Regions from separate parts of the Homo sapiens genome. Here regions 2 and 3 are each reported to be linked to region 1. Evidence: microRNA targets listed by miRTarBase, many of them from high-throughput screens and not tested one by one. Region 1 holds a microRNA gene; each other region holds the end of a gene's coding sequence.

What was found. Region 1 holds the annotated microRNA hsa-let-7a-5p (UGAGGUAGUAGGUUGUAUAGUU, at 4,445-4,466, opposite strand). A microRNA usually pairs through its seed, bases 2 to 8, with sites in the 3' UTR of a target mRNA and lowers its output. Matches are read on the target gene's strand: a 7mer-m8 pairs with bases 2 to 8, a 7mer-A1 pairs with bases 2 to 7 and ends in A, and an 8mer does both.
Region 2: the mRNA of NIPBL is a reported target of hsa-let-7a-5p. The part of its 3' UTR that is shown has no 7-base or 8-base seed match.
Region 3: miRTarBase lists ATP6V1B2 as a target of hsa-let-7a-5p. The part of its 3' UTR that is shown has no 7-base or 8-base seed match.

The regions. Positions count from the first base shown.
Region 1 is chr9:94,173,152-94,180,427 of GRCh38, reverse strand. MIRLET7A1 (microRNA let-7a-1) reads right to left here and starts at 4,471; the gene lies at 4,392-4,471. It overlaps MIRLET7A1HG (miRlet-7a-1/let-7f-1/let-7d cluster host gene), which reads right to left. Exons shown (of 5, transcript NR_170278.1): 2 at 4,463-4,563; 3 at 507-608. It overlaps MIRLET7F1 (microRNA let-7f-1), which reads right to left and starts at 4,081; the gene lies at 3,995-4,081. LINC02603 (long intergenic non-protein coding RNA 2603) reads left to right here. Exons shown (of 3, transcript NR_160773.1): 3 at 2,697-3,859. It also overlaps MIRLET7D. RefSeq lists an enhancer at 1,134-1,183.
Region 2 is chr5:37,064,192-37,071,467 of GRCh38, forward strand. It overlaps NIPBL (NIPBL cohesin loading factor), which reads left to right. Exons shown (of 47, transcript NM_133433.4): 47 at 336-2,222. The coding sequence ends at 701. Among named protein-coding and RNA genes, the nearest start is that of CPLANE1-AS1, 180 kb to the right of the region's middle.
Region 3 is chr8:20,219,566-20,226,837 of GRCh38, forward strand. ATP6V1B2 (ATPase H+ transporting V1 subunit B2) reads left to right here. Exons shown (of 14, transcript NM_001693.4): 14 at 698-2,131. The coding sequence ends at 837. Among named protein-coding and RNA genes, the nearest start is that of ATP6V1B2, 26 kb to the left of the region's middle. RefSeq lists an enhancer at 4,589-4,688.

The DNA.
Region 1 (7,276 bases):
ACGGCCGGTGGATCACTTGAGGCCAGGAGTTCAAGACCAGCCTGGCCAACATAGTGAAACCCTGTCTCTAATAAAAATACAAAAAATTACCTAAATCCTGTCTACTCTACCCAGGAGGTGGAGGTTGCAGCAGTGAGCTGAGATCACACCACTGCACTCTAGCCTGGGAAACAGTGAGATTTTGTCTCAAAAAATAAAATAAAATAAAAAAAAATACTACTGTTCATAGTAGTTGGAAAAAGATGGAATGCTAATGCACAAATTCGTCTCATTCCTAGAATGATAAATGCTCAAACTAGACTAGTGAAATGAGACATAAGAGTTTTTACAAGGTAGTGTCTGCCTGAGCAAACTCAAATAATTACTCAAGTAAAGAAAGGAGGCTGTCCTGGCCAGCACTTTGGGAGGTAAAAGCCAGAGGATAATCAGGAGTTCAAGACCAGTCTGGGCAATATGGTGAAACCGTCTCTACAAAAATAAAATTAGCCAGGCATGGTTGTATGCACCTGTAGTCCCAGTTACTAGGAAGCTTGAGTCCGGGAGGTCAAGGCTGCAGTGAGCTGTGATCATTTCACTACACTCCAGCATGGGTGACGGAATGAGACCATCTCAAAAACAAAACAAAAAGGAGGGTGATCCTGAGCAGTTAATTGTCTGTACAAAGTCACACAAGTGTTTACAAAAATGGAAGAGCTGGAAATTGCTCGTGTTAGCTTTATTAAAACATCTGTAAATGACCATCCAATCACCAAATTATTGCTAATGAAAAATGAAACTAAGAACAAATCATAATAATTACAAATGAAAAATGCATCTACTACTGCAAGGATGGGGATAAGGGTTAAGGATGACTTAAAAAGCACTAGTTTTGAAGTATGCAGTGTTTTTATTGAAAAGATGTATAACTTTTAACAAAATATGTAACACTATTACCCAGTCAAGACAACCACTTTCATTTTATTGACCTTCCAGTTCTTGTACATATTAAACAGACAAATCACTGTTACATACCATAATGAGCAGCAGCTCAATTACCCATTCCCAAACCATGCAATTCCACCCCAGCCGCCCCAAATTTTAAATCCAGAAGACAAACCTAGAAAAGCAGCAAGATAAATATTTACAAACATTGTAGAAAAACAGCAGTATTTCAAGTTTTGTTAAATTCTTTCCTTCAGACATAATGTAGACATAGAGGAGGAACAGCTGAGAGTCTCTGCATCACAGAAAGAGAAACCTGAGCAAAAACAAAACCATGCTTTCTAAACTTTCCAGTGACACCAAAAGGGAGACACTAGCAACTAAGTGTACTTCAGAAGTCTCAAATTCTCATTAGTTGACTTTCAGTTATCAATGTCAGCACCATGCTGCAGTTTATAATCACTAACGCAAACACTGCTCTCTTTGATATTCTTGCAATGTTTTCATTTGAAAAAACCTACAGAAAGAACTCTGCTTACACCAAAGCAAAGTAGCAAGGAAACAGGTTATCGGTGAATAATAAGGCCCTAAGAAAGGCAGCAGGTCGTATAGTTACCTCCTTGTGGGCAAAATCCCTGCCCTAAAACTATGCAACCTACTACCTCTTCCTAGGAACCCATTTTTTTTTTCTTGCTGGTCTTCTACTTGGCAGATGCACTTCAAATTAACCTGTTAAATTAGGTCATGTTCTTTGAGTTTTGTTTCTAATTCAAACTAATCAGAATTCTTTAACTAATGCTTTTGAAAAGTTATCTGGCCATATGACCTTGGTAAAAAGCCACAAATACATTTGCTTAAAATCCAACCTCAAGTCACAAACGAACAAGAAAGTAATGACATCAGAGGATGTAAGCCAGTAGTCTAATACTCAGCCCACCACGTATTACTGGAGTCGCTGACTTTTAACATTTAATTATCAATTTTTTTTTTGGACAGTCTCGCTCTGTCACCCAGGCTGGAGTACAGTGGTGTGATCTCGGCTCACTGCAACCTCTGCCTCCTGGGTTTAAGTGATTCTCCTGCCTCAGCCCCCAGAGTAGCTGGGATTACAGGCGCCCACCACCACGCCCAGCTACTTTTTTGTATTTTTAGTAGAAACAGGTTTTCACCATTTAGGCAGGCTGGTCTCAAACTCCTGACTCAGGTGATCCGCCCACCTTGGCCTCCCCAAAGTGCTGGGATTACCGGCATGAGCCACCACACCCGGCCTAATTTTTGTATCTTTATTAGAGACTGTGTTTCACCAGGCTGGTCAGGATGGTCTTTAACTCCTGACCTCAGGTGCTCCACCCGCCTCAGCCTCCCGAAGTGCTGGGATTAGAGGTGTGAGCCATGGTGCCCAACCCAGTTACCAACATTTAAATATCAAATTTCATAAAATCTCCAGTCTCTCCTGTTAACTGGAAAAGTAGGTGACAATGTATATAAACCCTGCTTGCTACCTATCAACCAGAGCAAATTAATTTACTATATTTGCCAGTTACAACTAGCCCCTCCTGGGCCTCTGATGGTATTTCAGTTTTTGACCCCTGAATTAAAGCAAACAGAAACAAATTCTGATCATGAATTTTATCATCATTAAAAACAAGCTTTCAGAGATAGTCATTCTCTCCATAAAGGCATTTTTAAAGTTTTATTTCGATTTACTTACTCTGCTTAGCTAATAACAATGTCCTTATGTAATTAATAAAATATATAAATTAATTTTTCTCCAGGGCTTAATTATTAGATAAGGATACGTTTCCAACTGAAGGTGGCAACGTTATGCTGGAAGAACATGTCAGGAAGACCACAAAATTTCATGACTGTACTTGCTACACTTTCAGCAGAAGAGTTATACATATTTTCAATTCAACAAAGATTAAGCCAAAAAGAATTCTTAGAACATTCCCACTCTTCTTTGGCACATCAAAAGGCAACAAATGTCATTTTCTCCCATGTTTTTATGTGCAGTTTAGAACAAAGACCAATTATCTATGCAGCTGTCCACAGTGGATAAAACAAAAAGCATACATTTGGTCCAGAGTTAAGTCACCTGGGTTGGGCCCATCCAAGGAAGTTTGATGTTTCTACTCTCATGAAAAGTACCAATGGCACTGCACAGTGATTATCTTAGATATTAAGGATAAACACAAATTTCTCCTTAAATTTCCATTTATTGGAAATGATTGGAGGGAGGGAACTTCTCCCTCACCTCCACACTGCCTCTTTTCCAACTCTTCTTCCAACACAAAATAGTTTAAACAGCAAGCACTTAGAGAGCTTTTAGCCTTGCTTGTTGATTACAAGGCCCAAGTTAGTGTATGGTTTGCCCATCGGAGGAAAGCTAAAACATGGGCCTTCATGGGTATTAAAATTGAAGAAACCTTTTCCAGCATTTTTTCTATTTTCTTTAAAGTAACAACCTATGGACTTCCCCATCTGACATTTTCGAGTGATCCCACTGTGTGAATGAAGGACTACTTCAGGGTTTGAGGGCAAAGCTGAAATCTTAGCAACTTACCAGTGAGCAAAGGTAGAACCCAGAGCCCATCTCTCCTTTTCCAGGCTGCTGAGTAAAGTCTGGCTCAATCAACCTATCAATGAAGCAGTGCTTACAACATTCTCCAAGACCACCCAAAACCCAAACTGGAAATGAATCATGACTAATCTGACTCATTTTGGCTCACACAGTGCCCTTCCAATTTGTATTTACCTTTACCACCCAGGACCTGACCTTGGACATGTGTACCAGGATGTAAGGCAATAAACCTATTCACAATTCCAAAAGGGCCTGGTCCTCTATGAAGATTTCCTGAAGGCTACTTACTTTCTCTACTCATTAAAATTTTTGCTTAACTTCAAATTTCTGAAATATACCATATGTGAAAAATTTAAATGTTAATCTGTGCCTACTGTACTACTTGAACAGAGAAAATTAACTGATAAACTGTAAATACAAAATGTCAAAATTAATTCTTCTGAGTTTTAATATCATCTAAATAAAAAGAAAATAATGCAGCAAGTCTACTCCTCAGGGAAGGCAATAGATTGTATAGTTATCTCCTGAACAGGGTAAAATCACTACCCCACAACTATACAATCTACTACCTCACTCTGATAGAGCAATGTTTTCTTCTGGAATGGAAAGTACAATCTCTTTCGAAAGAAAATTTCAACATAAAATTATCAGCATAAATCAAAATAAAAAAATACATTTATTCTGACACAGAGAAATAAGACAAGAAGCAAAAGGTTTCCCCACCCCCATCCAGTGTACTTGCTACAGACTTTATCTCTAAATTAATTTATTTCCAGGCCATAAACAAATGCTGCACTACATCTCTTTAAGACAAGTTAATCTTAAATATTGTACAATTAGTTAACTGACTTTCTATCAGACCGCCTGGATGCAGACTTTTCTATCACGTTAGGAAAGACAGTAGATTGTATAGTTATCTCCCAGTGGTGGGTGTGACCCTAAAACTATACAACCTACTACCTCATCCCACAGTGAAGAGAACATCCAGGGTGAATGGTGAAAAGGAATCACAGTTGAGCACCACAGGAAGGCTTTTTTTCCTCCTCGGTAATCCTGGTTTCCTGTGTGAGTGATAAGAAAAATAGTATTAGACCATTTTCATTCACTTACGTTGAAAATGAAGTTTAACTGAACATTTTGGCTACATGCATAATCTATGCTGTGGTTTCATTTCCTGTATTTCATTAATAGTATTTTAAATGCTTGGTTATCTGAATCCGCTCCTAAAACCATGTATTTACAAGATTCAGAAATCACCCTCTTACCACCACCTTTTACTATTATTAACTGCTGGTTTTCTTACAGTTCCTACAAATGAAAATGCATGAAATAACTTATCCTTCAAGAAACAACAAAAAATCATTACAGAAAAACATGACAGCCTCTAATTAAAAATCCAATGACTTCAAAACCCAAAAGTCCTGTACATCATGCATAATCCAAATGCACTAACATACAACGAGATAATATAAAAAACACACACAAATAGAAACTAATTTTTAAAGGAACCTACTCATTTATCCCATGCGAGCAAACACTAAGTGGTCTTATTAGGACTAAATCAAAGATAATCACCTGGATCTGATTCAGGGTCAGGATCCTTTCCTTTAGATAGAAAGGTAATATGTGGATTGAAGGCAGAGTCCAAAATCTTTAATAAACCCAAGTAATCTAAACTGTATTATTACCCTTTAATTTACAGACTTCATATTTAGGAGGTAGCTACTACGAAGATTATCTTTTAAGATAGGGACTAAATTTATTTTGTAGTGATTTAGTAACCAAAAGCACTAATTTTTAAAATTACAAAACGTAATAAAAAACATACGGCTCAATATAATAGAATTTAAAGTCTAGAAATAAACCCATACATGGGTCAACTGATTTTCAACCATGACAAGACAATTCAACTGGGAATCGTTTTTTCAACAAATAATGCTGACGGCTGTATAGCCACATGCAAAAAAAATGGATCTGCATTCTTTGTAAACTGGTGTGCAAAACACACATTAAAGTAACTTAAAACAACCTAATTTAATGGTAAAATATTTTAATAGATATTTCACCAAAGATATGACTCATAAGCACAAATGGCCAACAGGCACATGAAAAGATACATTATTCATTAGGATGGCTAATAAGATTAATAAAAGTGTTGACAAGGATGCGGAGAAAATTGGAACCCTTAGATTGCTGGTGGGAATGTGAAATGGTGCAGCTGCTTTGGAGAACAAAACTTGTAGACAAGTCAAACAGTTGTTAAGTGGAATCAGAAACACGTATTTCGTCTTTGTCTCCATTTGAAGATCCTGGCTGGCATACAGCTCCTAAAACCCTCAGAATTTCCTAAGTGATGAATGTCTGTTTAATGCTACTGAGTCGATTGGTGGCTCCTGTAGTTTCAGGAGGGGGATAGTCACCAGAAAGACCAAGGTGTGATTAGAGGGGTGGAACTTTCAGCCTCACCCCCTCAACCTCCAGGTAAAGCAGAGAGGACAGAGAGTAAGCCAATCATCAAAGGCCAATAATGTAATCAATCATGCCTAAGTATGAAACCTCCATAAAAACCCCTTAAGTGTCAGGGTTTGGACAGCTCTGAGTTGAAAAACACATCTTCATGCCAGGAGGCTGGTGTAACCCTAACTCCATAGATACAGAAGCTCCTGTGCTAGGAACCCTCCTGGACTTCAGCTTAAGGACCTCTTCATCTGGCTATTCATTTAAATCCTTTATAATAAACCAGTGATAATGAGTGTCTTCCTGTGTTCTGTAAGCCATCCTAGCAAATTATAGACCCAGTGGAAGAGGTTGTGAAACCCCCTAATTTATAGCTGGTTGGTTAAAAATTCAGGTAGAAACCTGCATCTGAAGCGGGGGCAGTCTTACGTGTTTGAGCCCTCAACCTGTGAAGTTTGTACTAACTTCAGGTAGTTTCAGAATTAAATTTAATTGTAGGACACTCTGTTGGTGTCGAGTTGAAGAATTGATTGTTGGTGTCAGAACTGGTTAGTGATGAGTAAAAAACAGTTCACCATATGACCCAGCAATTCCATTTCTAGGTATATACTCTAGAGAACTGAACATGGCTGGGTGTGGTGGTGCAGGCTTATGGTCCCAGCTGAGTTACTCAGGAGGTTGAGGCAGGAAGATTGCTTGAGCCTAGGAGTTAAAGGTTGCAGTAAGCTATGACCACACCACTGCACTCCAGTCAGAGCAAGAGAGTGAGACCCTGCCCCTCCCCGCAAAAAAAAAGGGCAAGAGAATTGAAAAAACGTGTATTTGAATGTTCACAGCATTACTCATTTGGAGTCAATAAAAACCAGGGTTCAAATCCTGGCCCTACTAATTCTCTGCCATTGAAATCTTGCAAAAGAAATTTAGCCGAAGTCCCTCAGCTTTCCTAGCTGCAGTATCAACACGTCTGTAACAAAAAGGGAAAGATTTATTAATACCATATATCCAAAATATGTAAGGTCCAACTACTTCATCATCTCTAGATGAAAACTGGTGGTAAGAAGCTTAATAACTTGCCCCAAATTAGAGACAGTACTGCATCACTAAACTATACTACATTTGAGACCATTTCAATTCTACAAGGCCAGGTTATGCAAACTAGGAACTCACAGACACACTTGTCCCTAACGTCAGGCCCTTTATAAGCCAAAATATTTCCCATGAATCAGCACTGTCCTTACTTTTATTTTTTTAGAGACGAGGTCTTGCTCTGTCACCCAGGCTGGAGTGCAACCGTGTGATCTTGGCTCCTGAAACCTC
Region 2 (7,276 bases), not on the chromosome of region 1:
TCCAGCATAAAGGGTTAATTTTTCTTTGAATTGTATTAATGTGTGTTATTTTTATTGTTGCTAAGTTTTATGTAGCTATATGGTTCATATGTATATATAATTTTATATATCAATAAGAGTAAAGACACGGGTACAAATTAAGAGTTATATGGTTTTACAAGTATATGTTAACCCCTTGGCGCTGGCGGTCACGGTGCGTCTCATTGCCGGCAATGGAAGTGTGCCGGGAAATCCCAACTCCCGGCGTCAAGGGATTAAAAGCAATAAAAACAATAATTTCACTAAAATTCTTTTGTGTAACACTTGGTCTTTTTTCCCCCCTCCCAATGTTTTAGTCATTGAGAAGGTCAAAACGAAATTCAGACTCTACGGAGTTGGCAGCACAGATGAATGAAAGTGTTGACGTCATGGATGTCATCGCTATTTGCTGTCCAAAGTACAAAGATCGACCACAAATTGCAAGAGTAGTGCAGAAAACCAGCAGTGGCTTCAGTGTTCAGTGGATGGCAGGCTCCTACAGTGGCTCCTGGACTGAGGCTAAGCGCCGTGATGGCCGCAAACTGGTGCCTTGGGTAGACACTATTAAAGAGTCAGACATTATTTACAAAAAAATTGCTCTAACGAGTGCTAATAAGCTGACTAATAAAGTTGTTCAGACTTTACGATCCCTGTATGCCGCCAAGGATGGGACTTCCAGCTAATGAATTTGTACATGCAGCCAAATTTACAGGAATTTTTTTAAAAGGCAGAAAAACTTGAAATACCAACATTCTGGCAAAAAAAAATCAGTTTTATGAAGAGTAAGTGGAACCTGGGATGCAGGAACAAAAGAAGGAAATGTTGGGCAAACATTTTTGTGGGAGCTCCCTTCGCTGTTGTGCAGCAGAAACAGATTCTCAGTTCATTTTTACTCCCACTGTATTATAGTTTAACAAAAATTGTTTATATCTTGGAAAAAAAACTTTCTGTTTAAAAAAAATAAACAAGTGAATGTTGGAAATTAGTCTGTTAATGTTCTTAATAAAGTGTTCTTGGAGTTTAACCTAGCAGCGGATGGCTTTCTTTAGCTTAGCCCAGTTTCCAGGGAAGCATTGTTTTTTCCAGGCTGTAAAATGGCAGAATCTCCTGGATATATAATTTATTCTGTTGAAAAAAAAAAAAGCATGCAGTATCTATGACCTATCTGCAGAAGGAGTTTTTGTAAATGTAGATTTTGATGTATTAGGTCACCCTGAAAACAATACAAGAAAAGGGATCCCCAGGTAATCTGGTGGAGCGAATACTGCAATAAATTTTTTTACTTCTCTTTGTTACTTGTCTGTTTCCATTTGAATTTCTTATTGTAAAAATCTGTTTAAATCCATTTATATTATTTTACAGTCTTTTATGTAAAATTTATTATATCACTGGTTTTCAAAGCAAAACATAAAATATTGTTTATACAGTTTGTATAGGCTGACTTCTGAATAATTGGTATCTATTATTTTCATTCCCATAAGAGGGTGTAAACAATTAACTCCAGGGTTTTATTGTATCCTGCAATATTTAGTATTAACTATATATGATTTAGCACTGTGCCAAACACATTTTCAAGAGTACATTTTGATATAAAAAGAAACTATAGTTTATTCCTTGTATGCTTCAATTTCTTTCTAGTGATGTCATGATGCTGATATTTATTCTTTAAACCTCGGGTAAAGGTAACCTGTTATTTGGAAAACCAGCATTTCTCTTGGTTAAAATGATGTCCGGTTATTTTAGAACTAGAGTTGAGATGAATATGACACTTCATAATTACACTCACTACATTTTTCACAAATTATTTTTTAATGCTGAAAAGAGTAATTTTACTTGTTGAGATGTTTATTCATTTTCTAATCTATGCTAAAAGCTTTTATCATAAGTCTTGGGAACAGTTGTCATTTACACATTACTTACTGCAGATATCTTGACTAAATCAGGAGGGAGGTGTTTAATCATTTGATATGTATAGTTGACACTCAGGAATAGTAATGCCTAAAATTTACAGTGGATGAGGTCTGTTTCAAGTTTAATTCTTTTTAAAAATGTTTTACTTATTTTTAAATCACTTTGAAAAAATTGACCTCCAGAATGCTGTTTTATGAAATTGGCAAATAAATGAAGGTATTCAATTTTTGAGGAAGAATGACATTGCCACAAAATACCTTTTTGTGACACCTATTAAACCACTATGAAAATAACTTTTCAGGATCTATTTCCTATGTGGAATTCTTTCAAATGCTTTCTTCACGGAAATGTTTTCTCACTCTTCGTTTTGTTCCCCTTACTTACATGTTTCTCTTTTCCTTATACTGTGAACTCTGGAACAAAACTAGATTGGGTTGGTTGGTTGGTTGGTTGGTTCTTCTTGGAGTTTATGTATATCAACAAAGGATTTGAGGTCACTTCTGAGAATAATATATCAAAAAGGGTACTGGTTAGAGAAAATATAAGAATAAAATCCAGCCCAGAGAGAGTACTAAGAATGTAAATGTGAGTAAAAAGCCAGTTTTGAATTCTATTTACGTGACAGTGATGCATGCTGTCATTTAATTCTCACAAAAACTCTCGTTATATATTTTATCCTCATTTTGTAGATGAGGATAGCAGGCTTAGAAGGATTTGGTAATTTACTAATGTCATGATAGGGATTTAAATCTGGAATTGAAGTAATTGTGTCTCACTACTCTAAGCTAATTGAACATCAGACATTAAGAGAGATGATCCTTATTGAAGTAAACCAGTTCCTAAAGGATCCTTGTAGTATACATACTTGGGAATCCTGTTCAGAGTAATTTTTAGGAAGTAGGTACACAGTAGTAAGTCTTCTGTTGCCTCAGTTGGCCATAGATGGAATTCTGTGTTTGCCACTCATTAGAAATTTAGGAATTTTAGGCAGGGCACGGTGGCTCACACCTGTAATCCCAGCACTTTGGGAGGCCGAGGCGGGCAGATCACCTGAAGTCAGGAGTTCAAGACCAGCCTGACCAACATGGGGAAACCCCGTCTCTACTAAAAATACAAAATTAGCCGGGCGTGGTGGTGCATACCTGTAATCCCAGCTACTCGAGAGGCTGAGGCAGGAGAATCGCTTGAACCCAGGAGGCGGAGGTTGCGGTGAGCCGAGATCACGCCATAGCACTCCAGCCTGGGCAACAAGAGCGAAACTCCATCTCAAAAAAGAAAAAGAAATTTAGGAATTTTAGGAATCAGTTTTGAAATTTTGTATATATTCTAAGCTCCTATTTTATCTGTTAATAGAAGCCAAATGTTAATATAAGCCTTAACTCTTAAATATACAAACCAAAATTTTCAGAAAGTTGAAGATTCTTCAAGATGAATTGTTAGGTCTTAACACTATTAAAGCTTTGGCAGTCAAATATACAAAATCAAACTTTAAGTATATTGGGGATTCACAAAGTTCTATTAAGTATTTAGAAAGTTCAGTCTTACTCTATAGTGTGTTGATTAATTACCATAGATTAATCTTGTTATATTGACTTGAAAAGATAGGTTATATTTGATATAAAAATTTTCAAGTATCTCTTCACTTTTTAAGTACATTAATATGAAATTTTAGCCTTATTGAAATTGTTTATTAAGAAAGAATGGCTAGTTTTAAAAATATGTTCATACCAAAATACACATGGCAGAAAATTCAGTGATCTCTAGAATTTTCTAGATGTAGTAATCTCTAATGGAAGAAATGCTGAGTTTTTTGAGAGAAATATATAGCTTACTCTGTTGATAGGTTGAGTATTTGAATTATTCAGGTAACTGAAGCACACAGGTGATTTTTATGACCATAGTCTGTCTCATGAAAACAGGTAAGTCAAACTGATGTTTGTTCAATACAGATTTCATGATCAGCAAGCAAATTTACCGTATTTTTATTTAGAAATAAATTAACCAGGGAAGTATGTGGTTCTCCCTCCCCTACCCACCACTTTTAGTTGCACAGAAAAATTCATCCTTGTCACTACCTGTGTCCAGGTGGTCTGCATCTTCAGAACTGTGGATATGGATAATTGGAATAAGATTACTTTTGCAAATATAAAACTCATCAGATTACCCACTTGAAATAATGTAATTTGAAACACTTGATAGTAATTTTTGCCCCATAAAAATCCTACGTGTTTGAACCTTTTGCTGTTTGCCTTGCTCATTTTAAAACCAAAGTTTGTTTAGTCCTATAGCTAATGTTTGTCATAGGCAGCATTTGTTACAAAATGATTTTACTAATTTTTCACTTGAATTTTTTTCTGAAATACAGTCTGTCCTATTGGTGCTAGCCGAGAAACAATTACATGCAAATTTAGTGTAATAGAAAGTCACTGACCAAACAAATTCAGTTTGGTACTCTGTTGACTAAGTGGTCATAAAGTTCCTGTGTGTTTTGCATGATGATGTGAGTACCAAGCCACCCTTCGTTTTTAAGACCCCAATTGTATATGGCTTCACTGCTGAGAGTGGTACGGTGTACACAATTATTTTTCTTATAAGAATTTTGTAAATTATTTTTACTTTAAGAGAATCTCCATTTACCCATTCCTCTGTTTCAGTCATTCTGAATTTCTGACCAAATTTATTTGAGCTGTACTCCATGCACCCCTTTCCACTCTTTCTGAAACAAGTCTCAGGCATCATTTTATTTTATCCATAAATAGGTTATCTTTTTTTTTTTTTTTTTTTTTTTTTGAGACGGAGTCTTGCTCTGTCGTCCAGGCTGGAGTGCAGTGGCCCCATCTCAGCTCACTGCAAGCTCCGCCTCCCATGTTCACACCATTCTGCCTCAGCCTCCCGAGTAGCTGGGACTACAGGCGCCCGCCACCATGCCCGGCTAATTTTTTGTATTTTTAGTAGAGACGGGGTTTCACCATGTTAGCCAGGATGGTCTCAATCTCCTGACCTCACGATCTACCCACGTCAGCCTCCCAAAGTGCTGGGATTACAGGCGTGAGCCACCGTGCCCAGCCCCATAAATAGGTTATCTTTAAATATTCTTCCTTGATATCAAATATCCAGTAAGTGTTTAAATTTTTTATTTTCTCATAAATGTCATATTTTTTAGGTCCTTTCTGTAGGCTTTCTCATGTCTTTTTATTCCTTGCAAATTTCTTATATTGAAAACACAAGTATTTTTCCTTGGGTTCTTAAGTAGATTCTAGGGGCTGGGCGCGGTGGCTCATGCCTGTAATCCCAGCATTTTGGGAGGCCAAGGCGGGCGGATCAAGAGGTCAGGAGTTCAAGACCAGCCTGGCCAACATGGTGAAACCCTCTCTCTACTAAAAATACAAAAATTAGCTGGGCGTGGTGGCACGCACCTGTAGTCCCAGCTACTTGGGAGGCTGAGGCAGGAGAATCACTTGAACCCAGGAGGCGGAGGTTGCAGTGAGCCGAGATTTCGCCATTGCATTCCAGCCTGGCGACACAGCGAAACTCCGTCTCAAAAAAAAAATAAATAAGTAGTTGATTCTAAATGGAGAGTCTAGTTGTTTTCTGATTTTTAATCAGTTTTCTTACCTGAAGTTATTGTAGGCTTGAGAGATATTGGATCTCTTTCAAATTCATAAGTAGCTTGAGCCTGTATAACTAGAACAGAGTACCACTACAGAGGTAATGAAGTACGGAGATAGGTCCACTTTTCAGGAAGATGGTGATAAGCATTGATTAATCCTTTGATTTGGAGTTGGCAAATAACCAAGCAGGCAGTTGGAGATAGAGATTTAAAGTAAGGAAATGGAAGCTGAACTAGATGCCAGAGGATGCCCTATAATCAGAGTTCCTTTTGTTGGTCAGTAATTTTGTAATACATACTGCTTGAAATAAGTTGACTGCAGGCTATGATTTTTTTAATGATACAGCTTTCAGGGTGTTACAGTTTTTGTTGAATGGAATTTTGCCCTTTTGTGACTTTTTTCAGTCATTGTTTAAATCTCAATCACATAGAACTTAAAATGAAAAGTTAGTGTTGCTTTATCAAACCCTTTACATTGACCTTTCTTCTGCTAAGAAATACCAGAGTAAGCTTTTCTTGATTATAACATGCCTAGAATTGTAATTTAGCCTTAACCTTACTAGATTTAAATCCTGGAGCAAAGAACAGAAAAAGGTTATTATGGTCTAAGTTTGTTATAAAATTTAAACCAATAATGGATCTCCAATTCCATAGTTTTAAAAATATTTATACAGTCATATGAGAGATGGCAAATAATCTGAAGTTTTTAATCACTTTGGAATTTACTAACCCCTTTGAGAATATAATGAAAGCCGAGAAATCTCTCTCCTTAGAAAATAGAATAAGTTCATATTCAGAATTGTGCATAAAATTTCAAGGGGTTCATGGACATCCCCATCCCATTTCCGTCTTTGGCCTATCTTGGGAATCTATGGAATGACTACAGGTTTAAGAAGGTGAAATTAAGGCTCAAAGAGGTGAATTGATATCACCAAGCTGCATACCTACTTATTGCTAGAGTCAAAAGCAAAACTGGGTTCTTATCTCCCATAAGGAAGATTTAACCTTGGGAAGTTCTTATTCAGTCTCCTGTTAAGATCTGAATGTAGGCTACTTAATGACTAAATTTTACTGATTTTTTTTTCTATACCTTTTCAAAAGATCCACGTTTTGTGTTCTCAGATTTTGTGATGCCTACCATCCTATTAGGTAGAAAAGGGAAAATGTGATATTTTATTGTGTTTTAATTATTTCTACATCACCTGGCTTGATGTAGAAGACTAAAACTTAGGTTAGTGAAAAAGAGTATTAACTTTGAAGTCAGAAGACATAGTCATAGCCATAGACAAAGCCATGGGTTTCTGAAACAAGTGTGAAATGAAATGTAAACAAAATCACTTAGCTTATTTTGTGGAAGCTTATTTAAAGAAATCTATACTTAGGTTTTGTGTAGACACATTAGAGAGAGAGAATCAGAATGCTGGGTTAAGTGGGGAGATGGGGGATGGAATTCTGAAAGTGGGAGCAGCATAGTGAGTAGAGGAGCTGGCGTGCGTGTAGTACAATGTCAAAAGATGAAGCCATAGAAAGGAGAGATAAGTATGCAATTTTGATAACTTTAGTAATGTAGTAATATAATTTGATCATTTTAATGTATAGGCAGTTGAAGGGCTCAAGGGATTGATGAACGATCACTCTGCTACATAGGGGAAAGACAAGGATGTCAAGAAGAGGACACTAATGCAATAGTCTCAGAAATAGAGACTGAACTAGGAGGATGATGGCAGTAGGGATGAA
Region 3 (7,272 bases), not on the chromosome of region 1:
CACCTTTCCAGTTATATGATACATTATTAATATTCAAATCCCCAAAATATTCATGATTATTGGAATTTTTTTAATGCAGAACCTGAATATCTTAAACAAAATAAAGTTTTCCTCTAGAGAAAAGAACCCAGACCTCCAGCCTTGGACTCAAAGAATAAGATTTATTTGTGGGGATAAGGATGATTCTGCCATCAAAAATAATTTTAACAACTTGGGAAACCACTGACCTTCAGATAGTGATACTCTGGAGAGGGTTGCATGTATTCAGGTGCTTGACTGGCATTTATGTCCTTCTGAGCATCTGTGTTAGTCGCCTTCAAATTCAGCCTTTTCTCTTTGTGTGAACCTTCTGTGCTAGGGAGACTTTTCTTACTAATCTCTGGACAAAACATTGATTCTAGTTTCCATTGCTCAAGTATCCTACCCAGTTGTCAAATCTCAGATCTGTCTCACCATCCTCTCCCGCAAGACTGCTCCCTGTCTCAGCCCAGCCGCCTCTTCCCTCTTCTCTGGTTCCTTATGATACTCACTGTCTGTGCCTTCTTTTCCTCAGTCCTTCTCATTTAGTCTTGGGAGTCCCAACTTTTTTTTTTCAATATCTATTTAATACACTGCTAGTCATATAACAATACATACTGGATAACACTGCTAAGTTGGAAGTCATTTGCATTTATTAATTCAATCTCAATTTTTTAAGGTCCTTACGAAAATCGCACTGTCTTTGAGACTTTGGACATTGGCTGGCAGCTACTCCGAATCTTCCCCAAAGAAATGCTGAAGAGAATCCCTCAGAGCACCCTCAGCGAATTTTACCCTCGAGACTCTGCAAAGCATTAGCTGCTGCTTCTGCATTGCTCCGCGCTCTTGTGAAATACTGGTTCTGTTTTCTTTATTCCTTTTGCACTCTCGGTTCCCACCTTTGTGTTGGAGTTTACCATGTTACCCTGTAATTAAAAACAAAGAATAGGTAACATATTGTGCCAGTGTTGCAACGTTTTAAACTGCTAACAGACCTTAAAATATCCCCCTACCTGGGTCCTCAGTGCTATGTTTAAAGTGCTGCAGGGATGGAGTGGCGTTTTCTTATTGCTGTATGTATTGTACATAGTGGAGTAGTTAGTTACCTGATAACAGTCTTGTTATTTGGGTCTCTTAGACCTTACCTCTCAACTCCCTCAAGAGTACCAGTCTCTGAAGTTATAATGCTTTGGTCTCTACATTAGGGGCAAGATCCAGTCTGAGAGAAGTCTCCTTTGAGAAGGGCCAAGAGGCTCTTTCCTGAGTGTTTGCTTTCGGTTTGTTGGTATGCCTGTATTGCTGGGCTGTGCTGCTGCTCGAAGCAGATGGTTTTGACTGTCTTTTTGCTCTTTCCTATATAATGAATAGATGAGTGAAAGGAGTTTTCTTTTTCTCTTTAGTACTTACGTATTGGGATTCCTGTGTCTTACAGCTCTCCCTCTCCAAATAATACACAGAATCCTGCAACTTTTTGCACAGCTGGTATCTGTCTGGTAGCAGTGAGACCCCTTGTCTTGGTGATCCTTACTGGGTTTCCAAGCAGAGGAGTCACATGATTACAATTGCCAGTAGAGTTGTTGTTTGGGGTACAAGATGAGAAGAAAGAAAAACCTACAGCCTTTCTACATTCTGACATGCTAACAGTGGTTTAAGTTTCTAAAGTGTTTACCAGATGCTGAAGGCAAGGGGAGGGAGCAGAAGCACTTATGTTTACGGATATTTTAAACTCTGTTAGAGAGCAGCCTTTGAAAATCCCCAATTTGGTTCTGCTTTTTGACCTCTCTCTACCTTTTCAGGGTAATCTTTGTGGCACAAACGATAGCATTTCCAAGCTTTAGAGTTTTCTGAATTCCTGCGCCTTCCTGACGTGAGCCCTGAGCGATCTTCTATGCAGTTCTGCCATGCGTCCTGTTGGTCTCTCTGTGTTCTTTGTTACTTGGGTGCAATAGCAACTTCCCTACCCCGTGCATTCCATCTTTCATGTTGTGTAAAGTTCTTCACTTTTTTCTCTGAGGGCTGGGGGTTGGGGGAGTCAGCATGATTATATTTTAATGTAGAAAATGTGACATCTGGATATAAAATGAAAATAAATGTTAAATTAAATGGACCTTAACTAAAGTGACTCTCTATCTTCTAACGAGGAAAGCAACAAGCAAATATGTAATCACACATCTCTTCAATTCACAGCTCTGAGCATCATAACCAGGATTGGGAACCAGCCCTTGTGTTGCAGGGACATGGCTTCCACACTGCCCTTGTCATTCTTTTTGGTACTGTCCCTTACAGCATGCTGTAGTTTGATCCAGGGCTGAGCATTCCTACAGGTGCTCCCCAGCGTTCCTCATTTCAGGCCTAGTCAGGACCTCTAGAGCCCATCTGCTGTGAGCAAAAGAGGGTGCTAAATAGTGAAATACAGCTTGAAGCAAGCCAAAACCTGTTTCACATAAAATCTCACATGGATGTCCTGTATATATAGAAACCTGGTGAAAGCACAGGGCATGCTGTCATGGAGCCTCCCATTTCTCCCCACTCCAGTTCAAGGCAGCTTTCAGGAGATGGAGAGGAAAAAGCTTAATCATAAGAAGAACTGGGTAGACCTGAGTTCTCTTTCGGATTCTACCAGTACTATATGGCCTTGCTTAATCATTCAACAAATTCGAGTCTGCTTGTCTGCTTGTATGCCTTTTAGGGTTGTTGTAAGGACTGGAGATTTTTGTGTGTAAAACACTAGGACAGTGCCTGGTCCATAGCAGGCCACTGTTACTAGTAAACCTTTTTTAAGATGAATTTGCCTTATTACTGTTACATAATACTTAGGAATTGTTGGTTATATAGCACTCTTGTTAGTTTGTAACTTATTTTTTAGTGAAAACATTTTCTGAAGGAGCCTTTTTATACCAGAATAAGACCTAATGAAAAGACCTGCTACGAAGCCAAGTGTCCTCAAAGGTCAGGCTAACTAAAATGACTCATTCGGCATTTATTCTTGCAGTTGACTGCCACTTCATTGTGTAAGATTTCATGTAAGTGAAAAAATGTTTTCAGACTAATGTCATAAATACCTCGCTAAGATGTTTTATTTTCAGCAAGTGTGAGGGTACAAATCGTCTGAGGTCAACAAAGCATCCTCTGCTCTTGAAATTTTTTGTTACTATCATAAGGGCAAGTTAGCTTAATTCAGTATTAGGAGCCAACGGAAAATAGTTCCCCAGACTACATTTAAAATAGCATTTAGAGACTACAACAAGAAATACTTGGCAAGGCAGTTCTTGAGGGAAAATTATCCTTTGTGGGAAAACTTAAGAAGGAAGTGGGTTTTTTTAAAATGAAACAGTCATGTTCCTTACTCAGCTACCAACTGTAGTTTTATTTCAAGCCATTTTTCCAGTTTGGGGTTGAACACCTGCCTCACACTCAGGCAAACCTTGTGGTGTCCCCAGCTGCCCCCTCCTCCATATGAAGCCCTGCAGTGGTAACAAGGAGCGGGTGACTGATATTTGGAAACAATGAGAAATCACTTCCAGTCACTAATGGGTCACAGAGCTTTGTATCCTGAGCTAGTGGCAAAACTCGTCCAGAAAACTTAGTAAGTGTTTTTCAGACACGTGTGAAGGCTAGGAATTGTGGGACCCTCCCTGAACAGTCTGCCACATTTCTACTTAAGGGAAAAGCAAAGCATCTGACCATGGCTATCCCTGAGGCTGAGGCACACATGAACAATGCCTAGGTCTCCTTTGTAGGAGCCTGAGGGTGCCTAACCTAGAATCAAGCCCGTGGCTGTTTGCTGTGGTTAGCAGCTACAAGTAGTGCACATGTGATATGCCACTGTTCTCCACAGAATTTCATCTCTAAACTCCTAGAGCATTTTCTAAATCCAATAAATTACAGCGTTCCAGGTACCAGTGGTCATGTAGCCCTTTATCCACAGATGCAACTGGAAAATGACTCGTCCAGGGTCACAAGGGAATGGCAGAACACGAGCTGGAACCTGGGTCTTTAAGCGTGGGCTAGTGCTCTTCCCACAGCACAATGTTAACATCCAAAGGCCACTCCACACATCAAAATGGTCTTCACAAATGTCAATCTCGCTAGAAACCAGGATTTTGTATTGTGGCTAAAGTTCCATATCCTGGTGGACAGAATGGTAGCGTGAATGTAAACCAAAGGCCCTGACTGTCTGGACCTAGGAACTTCAGGGCTCACACTAAAAAGTTAAGCTTAGGGCTCACACTAAAATGTTAAGCTTTTAGGGGAAGGTAAGATGGGAATGTGTGTACAGACAATAGCCTCCAAATGCATCTAATTTCTTTTCTAAGCAGTCGTATTCTTCATTTCCACAAGAGGGCAGCAGCCCCTGAATGGTGTGGCAGTGGCTAAACACTGAGTTCTAGAAACAGACACTTCCGGATCAGTGACTGGCAGTCAACAGTTCACTGAATCAAATAGTGCTTTTTTTGGGGCTGCATGTTAGCCTGGGGACTGTAAGGGAACATGCTCTGATAAAAATAAACTGAAATCGGTGTAAGGAGCCCTGTACTGTGGAATTGGGAGGTCAGGGTAGAGAGATGGCAAGGATGACCTGGTCCAGCCCTTTCCTGATAACTGAAGGGCTTTCTGAGCATCTGAAGCAGTGAGATCCAGCTTCTGGTGAAGGTGGGACGGTGTCAGGAGGCAGTCTACTCACAGATGGGCATCTCTGGTCGTTGGAATAATCTTCCTAAACCAAGAAACTTGCCTCCCTCTAACTTCACGGAGGGGTATCCTTGGGCTGTCCCCTACGGCTCTCCCAGGTGTTTACCCTCTACCATTCTGAAGATAGTTGGCCACTTCTAAGTCTTCAGTCTAAATATTTCTAGTTCGCTTAACCATCCCTCCCTTTATGAGTTAGGGAGTTACTGATCTCTCTGGTAACTGAACAGGTTTAGAAGTCAGATCTAGCCTCCTCCCATAGTACTTTTGTTATTGGGTCTGTGTTGTCCATAGAAAATCTTCTCCAAAATCTAGAGGCTCAGCTCATGGAAACCAAGGCCTCTCCCAAGCGGGAAGCTGGAGCTGGAAGCGAGCACGGACCATGGGCCTTGAGACCAACTCACAGAGGCTGGGACTCTGATTCAAGCTTAGGTTGCTGGAAACCTCAATATACTCTGACGTAAGACATTCTATTCTCTGGTTCTACTATACTTTTCCCCAGGATCTACTATTCAGTCGCACTCAAGTGTGGCCCTAGCACCAAGGAAGCTTCATTAGTGATTTACCTACTAGATGTTCATTGTTCAGATAAAACTTGGAAAGTGCAGGTAAGCATGAAGAAGAGAGTTCCATAATCCTATGACTTTGAGGAAATTTAACACTTTATCATATAGAACCTTTCAACAATCATGACTTTACCACCTGTGGCTTTGCCCTTCTGTCTTCTTAAGCCAAAGCCCACGGCAATTCTGGCTGCTTTCTCCTGAGGACCACATATATATAAGATTATGGGAATCATGTCAAGAAGAGATGTGTTTAAGGTGTAAACTTTCAGTACATGAGATTACAAAACAGCCGTGTGGTTTAATCTGAGGGCTCCGTTGAAAAACAAAAATAATTTCCAAATAACAAAGTTCTATTGAATTCCTTAGATTACATGTGCCATGAGGGGAATTGTGGTCCTTTAGCAGTACTTCTCAAAAGCCCCTTTCTTCTTTTTTTTTTTGAGGTGTCTCACTTTGTCGCCCAGGCTGGAGTACAGTGGTGCGATCTTGACTGACTGCAACCTGCAACCTCTGCCTCCGGACTCAAGCGATTCTCTTGCCTTAGCCTCCTGAGTAGCTGGGATTACAGGTGCGTGCTACCACGCCTGGCTAATTTTTGTATTTTTAGTGAGACGAGGTTTCACCATGTTGGCCAGGCTGGTCTCGAACTCCTGACCTCAAGTGATCCACCTGCCTCGGCCTCCCAAAGTGCTGGGATTACAGGCGCGAGCCACTGCACACAGGCAAAAGCCCCTTGCTTCTCATGGGTCTGCTGTTGTTTCCTTCAGCCACTTTGGTTTTCAGGGAGGGTTCAGGAAACCATCCTCCACTGTGCTTCTTTCTGGCCTTTGCTACCCCTGTTTCCCATCAGGAGACCCCAGGAACTGAAGTGGCAAGGGTGAATCCTGTGAGACGATGAGGAATGAGACCAGGCTGAAGTGTGAGATGCAGTAGCCCTCCTCCACCTCCACCAGAAGGCAGGGGTGGAATAAGAGCTGAAAGGTTTGTGTGCACATTTCTGGGTTATCCAGAGAGGGAGGGAGAGAGAGAAAGAGAGAGATGGGGCCTAGGTGGTTTACTTCTAAGTGCTTCAACAACCTGTGAAAATACCAGGGAGTTATCCATGCGTTTTGCTAAGGATTCTGAAAGATCGACATGAGTGTGGAAGATATATTTTAAGCCAATAAGGGCTGGCATGAAGAAATGTAATAACAGATTAAGTCTGCATACCCTGATTACAGAAGAACCCGCCTTAATAGATGATGACCGAAGCACAGAATGTGCGCTGAACCATTGAAGGTGATGCAGAGAAGAGTTACGTGTGTGTGCGGGCGTGTGTGTGTGAGTGGGTGTGTATTTAACAGCTTTACTGCAATATAATTCACATACCATCTAATTCACCCACTGAAAGTGCCATTCAGTGATTTTTAGTATAGTCACAGAGTGTGCAACCATCACAATCAATGTTACAACATTTTCATATTCTCTCCCCACCCCCAAAAGACTGTACCCATTAGAAGCCACTCTCCATTTCTCCCCAACCCTACCAGTCCCGGGCGGCTACTGATCTTTCTCTGTCCATGGATTTGCCTGTTCTGGATTTTCTTTTTTTTTCTTTCAGACGGAGTCTCATTCTGTCGCCCAGGCTGGAGTGAGTGGCGTGATCTCAGCTCACTGCAACCTCCATCTCCCAGGTTCAAGTGATTCTCATGCCTCAGCCTCTCGAGTAGCTGGAATGATAGGCGCGCACCGCCATGCCTGGCGAATTTTTGTGTTTTTAGTAGAGACGGGGTTTCACCATGTTGGCCAGGCTGGTCTTGAATTCCTGACCTCAAGTGATCCACTCTTCTCGACCTCCCAAAGTGTTGGGATTATAGGCGTGAGCCACCGCGCCCGGCCTGTTCTGGATATTTCTTATAAATGGAATCATACAGTGCTTCTTTCAGTTAGCATAATGTTTCCCAGGTTCATCCAGGTCATAACACATAATCAGGCTTCATTTCTTTTTATTACCAAATAA